2 separate regions of the Homo sapiens genome follow, and region 2 is linked to region 1. Evidence: fine-mapped expression QTL. A gene starts in region 1. The other region holds a variant in brackets. All regions are shown on one strand. Distances are between the middles of the regions. Region 1 holds the start of ACSL5 (acyl-CoA synthetase long chain family member 5). Region 2 has its middle 23 kb from the start of ACSL5.

Evidence for each region. PIP is the estimated chance that this variant, and not a neighbour inherited with it, causes the effect.
Region 2: its variant is the best candidate, but not a certain one, in a credible set for the expression of ACSL5 in whole blood (TwinsUK, PIP 0.64).

Annotation. Positions count from the first base shown.
Region 1 is chr10:112,371,112-112,376,483 of GRCh38, forward strand. ACSL5 (acyl-CoA synthetase long chain family member 5) reads left to right here and starts at 3,005. Exons shown (of 21, transcript NM_203379.2): 1 at 3,005-3,158. RefSeq lists enhancers at 4,706-4,855, 4,737-5,237, 4,996-5,215, 5,238-5,372.
Region 2 is chr10:112,348,581-112,353,952 of GRCh38, forward strand. It overlaps the pseudogene GUCY2GP. Among named protein-coding and RNA genes, the nearest start is that of ACSL5, 23 kb to the right of the region's middle. The variant G/C (reference allele first, on the strand shown) is at 3,010.

The DNA.
Region 1 (5,372 bases):
GATGTGGGTGGGGCCAGATAAGGAAATAAAAGCAGGCTGCCCCAGCCAGCAGTGGCAACCTGCTGGGGTTCCCTTCCATGCTGTGGAAGCTTTGTTCTTTCGCTCTTTGCAATAAATCTTGCTACTGCTCACTCTTTGGGTCTACACTGCCTTTATGAGCTGTAACACTCACCACGAAGGTCTGCAGCTTCACTCCTGAAGCCAACAAGACCACGAACCCACCGGGAGGAACAAACAACTCCAGACGCCCCACCTTAAGGGCTGTAACACTCACCGCGAAGGTCCACAGCTTCACTCCTGAGCCAGTGAGATCACGAACCCACCAGAAGGAAGAAACTCCAAACACATCCGAACATCAGAAGGAACAAACTCCGGACACGCTGCCTTTAAGAACTGTAACACTCACCGCCAGGGTGTGCAGCTTCATTCTTGAAGTCAGTGAGACCAAGAACCCACCAATTCCAGACACACAAAGGCTGAGGAGTGTGGGCACACGGTGTGGGACTGGCAGCCAGCTCCACCTGTGGCCACGGTGCGGGATCGACTGGGTGAAGCCAGCTGGCCTCCTGAGTCTGGTGGGGACTTGGAGAACCTTTATGTCTAGCTAAGGGATTATAAATACACCAATCGGCACTCAGTATTTGGCTCAAGGTTTGGAAACACACCAATCAGCACCCTGTGTCTAGCTCAGGGTTTGTGAATGCACCAATGGACACTCTGTATCTAGCTACTCTGGTGGGGACTTGGAGAACCTTTATGTCTAGCTAAGGGATTGTAAATACACCAATGGGCACTCTGTATCTAGCTCAAGGTTTGTAAACACACCAATCAGCCCCCCGTGTCTAGCTCAGGGTTTGTGAATGCACCAATTGACACTCTGTATCTAGCTACTCTGGTAGGGACTTGGGTAACCTTTATGTCTAGCTAAGGGATTGTAAATACACCAATTGGCACTCTGTGTCTAGCTCAAGGTTTGTAAACCATTCAGCACCCTGGTCTAGCTCAGGGTTTGTGAATGCACCAATCGACACTCTGGATCTAGCTAATCTAGTGGGGACATGGAAAACTTTTGTGTCAACACTCTGTATCTAGCTAATCTAGTGGGGACATGGCGAACTTTTGTGTCTAGCTCAGGGATTGTAAACACACCAATCAGCACCCTGTCAAAACGGACCAATCAGCTCTCTGTAAAACAGACCAATCGGCTCTCTGTAAAATGGACCAATCAGTAGGATGTGGGTGGGGCCAGATAAAAGAATAAAAGCAGGCTGTCCGAGCCCGGAGTGGCAACCACCTGGGGTTCTTTTCACACTGTGGAAGGTTTGTTCTTTAGCTCTTTGCAATAAATCTTGCTACTGCTCACTCTTTGGGTCTACGCTGCTTTTATGAGCTGTAATGCTCACTGCAAAGGTCTGTAGCTTTACTCCTGAGCCAGCAAGACCACAAACCCACCAGAAGGAAGAAACTCTGAACACATCTGAACATCAGAAGGAACAAACTCTAGACACACCGCCTTTAAGAACTGTAACACTCACTGCGAGGGTCCGCGGCTTCATTCTGGTAGCTAAACATACACAGATCAATGGGGCAGCATAGGGGCCAAGGCACTGCAGGGGTTCTCATGACTCTGAGTCAGGTGCTGTCTTGACCGACTGGTTGTGTGATTCCAGAAGCCTTCTTTCACCTGAAAAGGCCTCACTGGCCTCACCTATACAGTAAGTTTGCACATCATCTCCAGGGTTTCTTTCATTTCTACCCACTGTTTTTGTTTAGTAATGATGCCTTGCAGTCCTAATGATCTTGGAATCAAGAATGGTGACTAGAGAACTTCAAAGTGGAAAGAGAGGCTGGGCATGGTGGCTCATGCCTATAATCCCAGCACTTCGGGAGGCCGAGGCAGGCAGATCACTTGAAGTCAGGAGTTCGAGACCAGCCTGGCCAACATGGTGAAACCCTGTCTCTGCTAAAAATACAAAAAAAAAAAAAAAAATTAGCCAGGCATTGTGGTGCATGCCTGTAATCCCAGCCACTCCAGAGGCTGAGGCAGGAGAATTGCTTGAACTCAGGAAGTGGAGGTTGCGGTGAGACTCCGTCTCAAAAAAAAAAAAAAAAAAAAAAAAGGAGAGAGTAGGATGGCTGAGCCATGACGCAGTAGCAATGCTTCTTTTTTTTTTTTTTTTTTTGAGACAGAGTCTCGCTGTGTCGCCCAGGCTGGAGTGCAGTGGCGCGATCTTGGCTCACTGCAAGCTCCACCTCCCGGGTTCACACCATTCTCCTGCCTCAGCCTCCCAAGTAGCTGGGACTACAGGGGCCCACCACCACGCCCGGCTAATTTTTTGTGTATTCAGTAGAGACGGGGTTTCACCGTGTTAGCCAGGAAGCAATGCTTCCTATTCTAGCGCCTTGCTAAACTATGTGTGCTGCAGACTGTGTTCGTGATTCCGAATCCTAAAAACAACCGTCCTAGGCTTGTCTCTCAGCCTAGACTCTAGACTGATTTGGCTCATTTGGTTGTCTTGGAGACGTTCTAATTCTGAAGGGGGCAGTGGTCCCTTCTAGAAGATAGCTGGTCTGCAAATGCACACCTCTGCTTAGTCTGAATCCTAAAGTTATAGCTTGAGCCAATTAAAGTGGCTTCTCATTTTTCTCTCACTCTGATCTCAAGGAGCCCTTTTTCTTCTAGTAATCTAGACCTTCCTCTTCCTATCACAGTCTCAAGGATTGTGCCCCCAAAGCAGATGCAAAGCCCTGTCTACCCCTTCTCCTTCCCCTGAGGTAGAGCTTTATCGAAGGTTTCTCTTGGTAAACGTTAGCTTTCTGAACTAAGGGCCGTCTTTTTTTTTTTTCCCGCTTAAGCCCATTGCATAACAATCTCTTGTTTTAATCTTTTGCCCAACACTGCTTTTCTTACTGTCAGAGGTTACTACAAGTGTTTGAACAGGTAACTTCTACCTTTGAACTTCTGTTGTGACAGATTCAAAGGTTCCAGGGGAGTGTGTTGGCCACTCTCAGGACAGTACACAGTAGCTTCGGGTGTGTCCCAGTCAGTCCTAGGAGCTGTGGAAAGAGTAGAAGTGCCTGAATGTGGTGCTGAATCAATACAGCCAGCTGTGAGGGGAGCACTTCCTGGACCCAGGAAGGGAGAGTCTTCTTCCAAGGTAAGCTGCAATGATACTACCTGCACTATATTGAATATATCTGTGAGATAGTAGGGAGGGGATTGGTGTGGGGAAAGAAAGTGGGATTTGTTATGCTCAACCTAAGGCTCTTTAATAACATGAAATTACATTTAGTTGAATAGTAATCTCAGCTGACTTGTGTGGGAGGCAAAGAAAAAAATCAGTTGGAAAAGGGGTGGAGATATATGAGCTATCCAAATGCTAGCAGGGGATGGAATTGGAAGGGAACACTGATTTTGGTAAGTGTACTAAAGCACACCAAGCCAGAATGTGGGTCTCCTTCATCTTCCATTAAGAAATTTCTGTCTCAGTGTAGTTAGAAGGATCGTGCGTCAGCTGCTGAGGGCAGAGAGTCCCATTTGGCAGACAGAGAGGAAGGGAATCAGCAGATATTCGATTAGGTGCTGGGGACTGTTCTGGGTAGATTATGTATGTTACTTCATTGGTGTATCTCATCCTATAAAGCAGGTGGTATCCTTCCCATTTCACAGAGGCATAGTGCGTCTCCAGGCTGTTAAACAGCATGGCCTAAGCTACATAGCTCCAAGGTGGTGTGGCTAGAATTTGAGACTTGATTGGTCAGTTTCCACAGCCTGCCCAATAATGCAGAATTGTTGTGGGTTGCCAAAGCTTTCAGTTACCCCCTGAAATCCTGAGGGTGTCACTCATGTGCACAGAGGATTGATAGGAATACAACTCTGATGGGCCTTTAGAATGACTCAACCTTCCTGAACTTGAGCATTTTTACTGGAGGAGGTCAATAAAAAAAAAAGAAATAAAACCTCATCTTCCCCTGGCCCTGAGCCCTTTGGTGAAGGAAGACAGCACCCGGTGAAGGGCTCAGAGGTATTAGTGTGGCTGAGATTCGACACCCACTCTGCCATCCTCTGCTCTCCTCTAGAGGAAGTTGCCTCTTGGGGAGCTGAGTTCCTGAAACTAAGCAAATGACAAGTGCTCCTCCAGCCGTGAGATGAGCCAGAGGATGGAATGCCACAGGCCCCACTTCGTCTCCCAGCCCTTCATCTTTCTTCCATGTCCAAAGGCGGCTCCCCAGAGGCCAAGGGCTCAGCTCTTGTGTTCTCTGAGACTGTGGCACAGCTCACCCTGGCTTCCTTAGTAGGAAGCTTTTAAGAACTGCTCTGTAGAAAGAACAAACCCTAATCTAGCTCCAGCAAAGAGCCAGGATCATGCTGAACTTCCTGTGAGCCTTCGTGGGGGATCGAGGCTGGAGAAAGTGCTGCTTCATTCTGAGGTATCTGTGAGGTGGGGAAGGGGCAGGAAAATTTGTCATTTCGGCTTCCTAATCTGAGAATGGTAGCTCCAGGGCCCCCCTGTAGCCACAGCCTTAGGCGGATCAAAAATGAGACTAATACAGGTCCTGGTAATACTGGGGGTGACCAAGGCGAAAGAATCGATTTTTAAGTTAAGTTTTGAGGTGTGACTGTATCAGAGGGAAAGAAACCATGCCAATTGAACGACTCACAGCCCTGTCGTTCCTGACTTGCTTATTTTCTTGGCTTTGCCAGAACTTCTTCAGAGACCAAGGCAGGCAGCTCTGGCGACTGGAGAGAGGCGGGGTAGAAGGTGTTTGTGTGGGTCTGAGGGCTGAGGTACCCTCTAGCCAGACTTTCCTGTCCTCCGAATCCAGCAGGGAACAGCGTCACCTCTGCCTCTGTGAGGCTTCTGATCTGAGGGGGCACCTCAAGTCATTTTAGTTTGTTTGTTTTCATCTTAGTTGAAAGATGATAGGCCACAGGAGGGCAGGGTCAACTGTGTTGAGGCAAGCTGGCTTTTGTGTCGGCCCTTAGGGGCTGAGGTGAAAGGCTTTGACACGGAGCCAGGGTAGCTTTGGCAGCTTCTCCCCTCCTGGTCAGAACACTTCCACTTTCAGTTGTGAAAAAAAAAATTAAAACCAGGAAGTGAAGTCCCCGAGCACGTTAGAAAGCCTGACATGGCCTGACTCGGGACAGCTCAGAGCAGGGCAGAACTGGGGACACTCTGGGCCGGCCTTCTGCCTGCATGGACGCTCTGAAGCCACCCTGTCTCTGGAGGAACCACGAGCGAGGGAAGAAGGACAGGGACTCGTGTGGCAGGAAGAACTCAGAGCCGGGAAGCCCCCATTCACTAGAAGCACTGAGAGATGCGGCCCCCTCGCAGGGTAAGGGGACCATCGAGGGGGTGTTATTCAGCAAG
Region 2 (5,372 bases), 23 kb before region 1:
AAAGCTTACCTACTAACAATGATTGCAAAAACTTAAAAAGCTTAAGACTATAGATTCTTGCTTTTTTTAAATTTTTTTTGCTTGTGGCATTATCATTATAATCTACGTTACTATTATGAACAGTATATACCCACTCATTATACATATATGTATGTATATATACATATATATGACATCACACTCACACATATATATATATATATGATGATATCATACCATAATGCAGCTTGATTTTTTTCCACCTAAACCTATACTGGGAATAGTTTCATAAAATAGATTTATGCTATTCTTTCATGAAGCAGCATGAATTCAATTGCATAGACATTGGTGTATTCTTAGTTCTACCTTCTTTCTGCCATTACACACCAGTTGGAATGGATCATCAATGTGTGGGAGAAAGCAACAGGGGAGTTGAAAAGTTTCCCTGCCAAAACAATGTGCCTGAAGGCAGAGATGAGAGGAAAAGTGAAGAGAAAGGGAGGCGGTCACAATGGATATCTAGGGTAAGAGAGTGTTCTGGAAAGTCTGGCATGCCTTTAGGATTCCAGCTCCCTACCCAAAGAAATCTGAGATGCTTTTGTGGATCTGAAAGACTTCATGATAAAGAAAGAAAAATCTGGGACATTACTATATATCTCCCTTTATTTTCTTCTGTCCTATTTCAGCTTCTTGTGATTTTTTTAAAAAGCTTATTTTAGAAAGATAAAACTGCTAGAAAAATAATGCACCGTGTCCATAGGAAAAGGCAAGTAGCTTTTGTAGATGCCTGTTGTGTAAGATGCTTACAAGCACAGACACAATAGCCCCCTGTGAGGCAGATACTACGTGCATTATTTCCATGCATCAGTGCACTTGATGAGAGGTAGAAAAGGAGCCCAGGCCACCTGGGTTTGAATGCTAGCTCTCCCTCATACTAGTTGGATGGCCTTGGGCAAGTTTTGGCACCTCTCTGAACCTCAGTTTCCTCTTCTGTAAAACGAGGATGATAAAAGTGAGGTGACAACGTGCTAGCAGCCCTCGCTCGCTCTTGGCGCCTCCTTGGCCTCGGCGTCCACTCTGGCGGTGCTTCAGGAGCCCTTCAGCCCGCCGCTGCACTGTGGGAGCCCCTTTCTGGGTTGCCCGAGGCCGGAACCAGCTCCCTCTGCTTGCAGGGAGGTGTGGAGGGAGAATCGCGGGCGGGAACCGGGGCTGGGTGCCGCTCGCTGGACAGCGTGAGTTCCGGGTGGGGGTGGGCTCCGCACTCGGAGCTCCGGCCAGCGCCGCCAGCCCCGGGCAGTGAGGGGCTCAGCACCTGGGCCAGCGGCTGCGGAGGGTTCACCGGGTGCCACAGCACTGCCGGCCCGTCCGCGCCACACTCGAATTCTCACCGCGCCTCAGCTGCCTCCCCACGCGGCAGGGCTTAGGACCTGCAGCTGCCATGCCTCCCCTCCGCCCCCCCCGCCACCAGTGGGCTTCCGCGCAGCCCCAGCGTCCCCAAAGGGCCCCGCCCATCGACCGCCCAAGGGCTGAGAAGGGTGGGTGCGTGGCTTGGGACTGGCAGGCAGCTCCGCAGGCGGCATCCACTAGGCGAAGGCAGCAGGGTTCCTGAGTTGGGTCGGCACTTGGAAAACTTTTATGTCTAGCTAAAGGATTGTAAACACACCAATCAGCACTCTGTCTAGCTCAAGGTGTGTAAACGCACCAATCAGCACCCTGTCAAAATGGACCAATCAGCTCTCTGTTAAGTGGACCAATCAGCAGGATGTGGGTGGGGTCAGATAAGGGAATAAAAAGCTGCGTGGGCTAACAGCGATAACCCTTTTGGGTTCTTTTTGGAAAGTTTGTTGTCTTGCTTTTTGGGCTAAAGTTTTGCTGCTGCTTGCTCTAGCTCTATGTTACCTTTGTGAGCTATAACATGGTGCGAAAGTCTGCAGCTTTACTCCTGAAGCTGCCGAGACCGTGAACCCACTGGGAGTGATGAACGATTCCGGATGCGCCACCTGTAACAGCTGTAGCACTCACTGTGAAGGTCTGTAATTTCACTCCTGAGGCCAGCGAGACCACAAACCCACGTGAAGGAATGAACAATTCCAGCCACGCTGCGTTTAAGAGCTGTAACATTTACCGTGAAGGTCTGCAACTTCACTCCTTAAGTCAGCGAGACCACAAACCCACCAAAAGGAAGAAACTCCAGACACATCTGAACATGTGAAGGAACAAACTCCGGACACACCATCTTTAAGAGGTGTAACACTCACCTCGAGGGTTCGCAGCTTCGTTCTTGAAGTCAGTGAGACCAAGAACCCACCAATTTCCAGATCCAAAATACCCCATGGTGTGGTGGTGGGCTGCAATAAGCGTTAATGTATTAAGCACTCACAGTGAGGCCCAGTACTCCATAAGCTCTCCAGAAGGCAGAGTTGTGTGGGGTGAGCTCAGACTGAAAGGCCCAGTCTGGAAGACTAGGTATGCCACTTGGGAGTGCTGAAATCTTAGATAAGGTACCTTAATTAAGCCTTGGGTTTTTTTACCTGTACATTGGAATAACAATAATATCTACCTTCCAAGGCTGTTCGAAATACCAAATACAAAATGTACAGGCACATAAATAATGCATTTAGGAACTGCCTTGCAAAGCCATTGAGAATATTAAGTGCAATCGTGTGTAAAATGTGTAACTCAGTCCTCATAGTAAGCAGTTGTGTTTTTAGCCATTCTCATTACCAAAAGAATCAGACTGCCTAAGAATTGCTTCGTTGCATCTGTATGTTGGTCTTTCCAGCCCTTTGTTAAAGCTTCAGCAGGGACACGGCGGTAGCTGTGGAAGAAAAAGAAGTGAGAGCCGCTTGTGTCTGAGGGTCCCTTGGGAAGGTCTCAGCTGCCCGGTAGAAATGACAGTAGTTCCTCAACTGTTGTTGTCTGATACGGAATACAGCGGGCTAGGCCTTCAAGCCAGCTGACCTAGTTCATGGCCTGGTTCAGCCTTTCACTAGCTGTGGAGAAGAACTCTGGGCAAGTTCTTCCAGCTCT[G/C]TCTTAGTGTCCTAATTTTAAGAAGAGGACGCGAGAGTGCCTACCTCACAGGGTTGTAGTGAGTGCTCAGTGAGCTAATACATGTGGGTCATAACGAGTGCTCCATACTTGCTACCTCTTACTACCAGAGCCATTGAGTGGTCAACGGTACCCACCTCCAACTGCTGCAAAATGATGAAAACAAATTCTCCAGTGCTGAGTCCCAGGTTTGCTGCAGCCAGAAGAATAATTTTTGCATCCTCTGAGCTGCACGTTAAGATGATAACTATAAGAATGAAAACCAGAGTCCGCCAGTTGCACATGCTTGTGTATGTGTGCTTTCTCACGCATGCTCTCACTCTAAGTCTGGCCTAAAGTCACTGTAAATGAGACGTGAACTTTTTCTTTCCTTGGGCATGCCTTAAGAAACAGGAATGCCTAAACTAGTCCCTGAGTTTTTACATTCTTTAACCAAACCTGAAGTGTACAAACTAGCAGTTATAGCACTGAAGTCTTTGCTGCAGCCTCCCCACAATGTACAAGTGAAAAAAGTTTGGGATCACCTCTGTGCTCTAGGTTTTTTTTTTCTTTTTGGCTCAAAAATCAGAACAGCAGACCTGGCTTGTGACTTGTCAGCCACACTTCAGCTAAGAGGAGTTCACAGAGGACCTTTGGACATGTGGACTTTCAAGGGCATTTGGACTTTCTGAGTTGGGCTGGCCGGAGGGAGGAGTAGGCCATGGTACTTTTCTGCCGTTTAATCCCATCACCGTTCATTTTCAGAATACACAAATGAAGTAGTGGGTTTTATTTTTTATTTATTTATTTTTGAGACAGAGTCTGCTGTATTGACCAGGCTGCATGGAGTACAATGGTACAATCTCGGCTCACTGCAACCTCCGCCTCCTGGGTTCAAGCAATTCTTATGTCTCAGCCTCCAGGACAGCTGGGATTACAGGCATGCACCATCACACCTGGCTAATTTTTGTATTTTTAGTAGGGACAGCATTTCACCATGTTGACTAGGCTGGTCTCCAACTCCTGGCCTTGAATGATCTGCCCACCTCAGCCTCCCAAAGTGCTGGGATTACAGGCGTGCGCCAACGCACCCAGCTAGTTTTTTAAATGAAGTAATTTATAGTCTATTTATCTGAGCTCCAATTATGTGTCAGGCACTTTGCTGGGCACAGACATAGCAGTGAACGAGCCAGCAGACAGCATACAAGTGGACAGATTAAAGAGATCATTGAAGATTCTAATTAGTGAGGTTGGAAACGGATGCTGTGATGCTAATGGGTGGGGAGGGGAAACAGCTTCACATCAAGTGGTTAGAGAAGGCCTTCCTGAGGAGGTGGGCTCTGGACCCAGTCGGCAAGGATGCAAGGATGAGAGGACGCTACCCTTAAGAAGGTGCTGGGTAGGGTGGAATGTGACTGAGACCACATAACAATTGCCTCATTGGATCAGTGTTGGTCTTTCAAGCCCTTTATTAGAGATTCAACAGGGACACAGGGAGGTAGCTGTGGAAGAAAAACAAGTGAGAGCCACTTGTGCCTTAGAGTCCCACATTAGCATCACTGGTTGGAGTGGGTGCAGGTGACACCCTAGGCCAAGGGAGTAGAAAACCCTAAAGTCTCAGGGCTGGAGAGAGTTCAGTTTATTTGAGGAACAGAAAGGAGTCAGTTACTAATTCATGCTAGAAAGTTGAGCCTTATAGGCATCACCACAAAAATAATTGCTGTCATATGTTGACCAACTACTTGTCCAGACATGGTGCTAAGCACTTTACAGGCATAACCTTATTTAATCCTCCCCTTTCTGTGACATAGGTAGGATGGTTGTCTCCATTTTATAGAAAAGATATTTGAGATACAGAGAGATTAAGGTACTTACCCAAGGAGGACACAGCTAAAATGTCAGAGACTGGATTCAAACCTAGGTCTGTCAATCTGCAGAGCCCATGCTGTAAACAAATAGTGAAGTCCAGGACCCAGCCCACCTGTAAGATGCTTCTAGAACTTGCGCTGTGTATCATAACACTGTAGCATGTGGGGTTTTACTTTAGACCAAAAAAAAAAACCCACAATTTTTTGTTAGTGATGTCAAGCAATAAAGGAAGTTGCTTTTATATATTATTAATTTTGTACCTTGTTTCCATCTGCTTTTACACTCATAGAAAAGTGAAGAGTTTTTTGGGTTGTTTTTTTTTTTTTCAAATCTGCTTGTCCCATTTTTCTCTCCAAATAAAAGCAACAGAAGACTTTTCTACTTACCCCTGGCAATTGATGATATCCTCCAAAGATGCTCTTGAAGAAGGACTAGACTATTGTTGGTGTATCTCATGCTGGCAGTGATGATAAAATGGGATTTGAGTTCATTCTCTA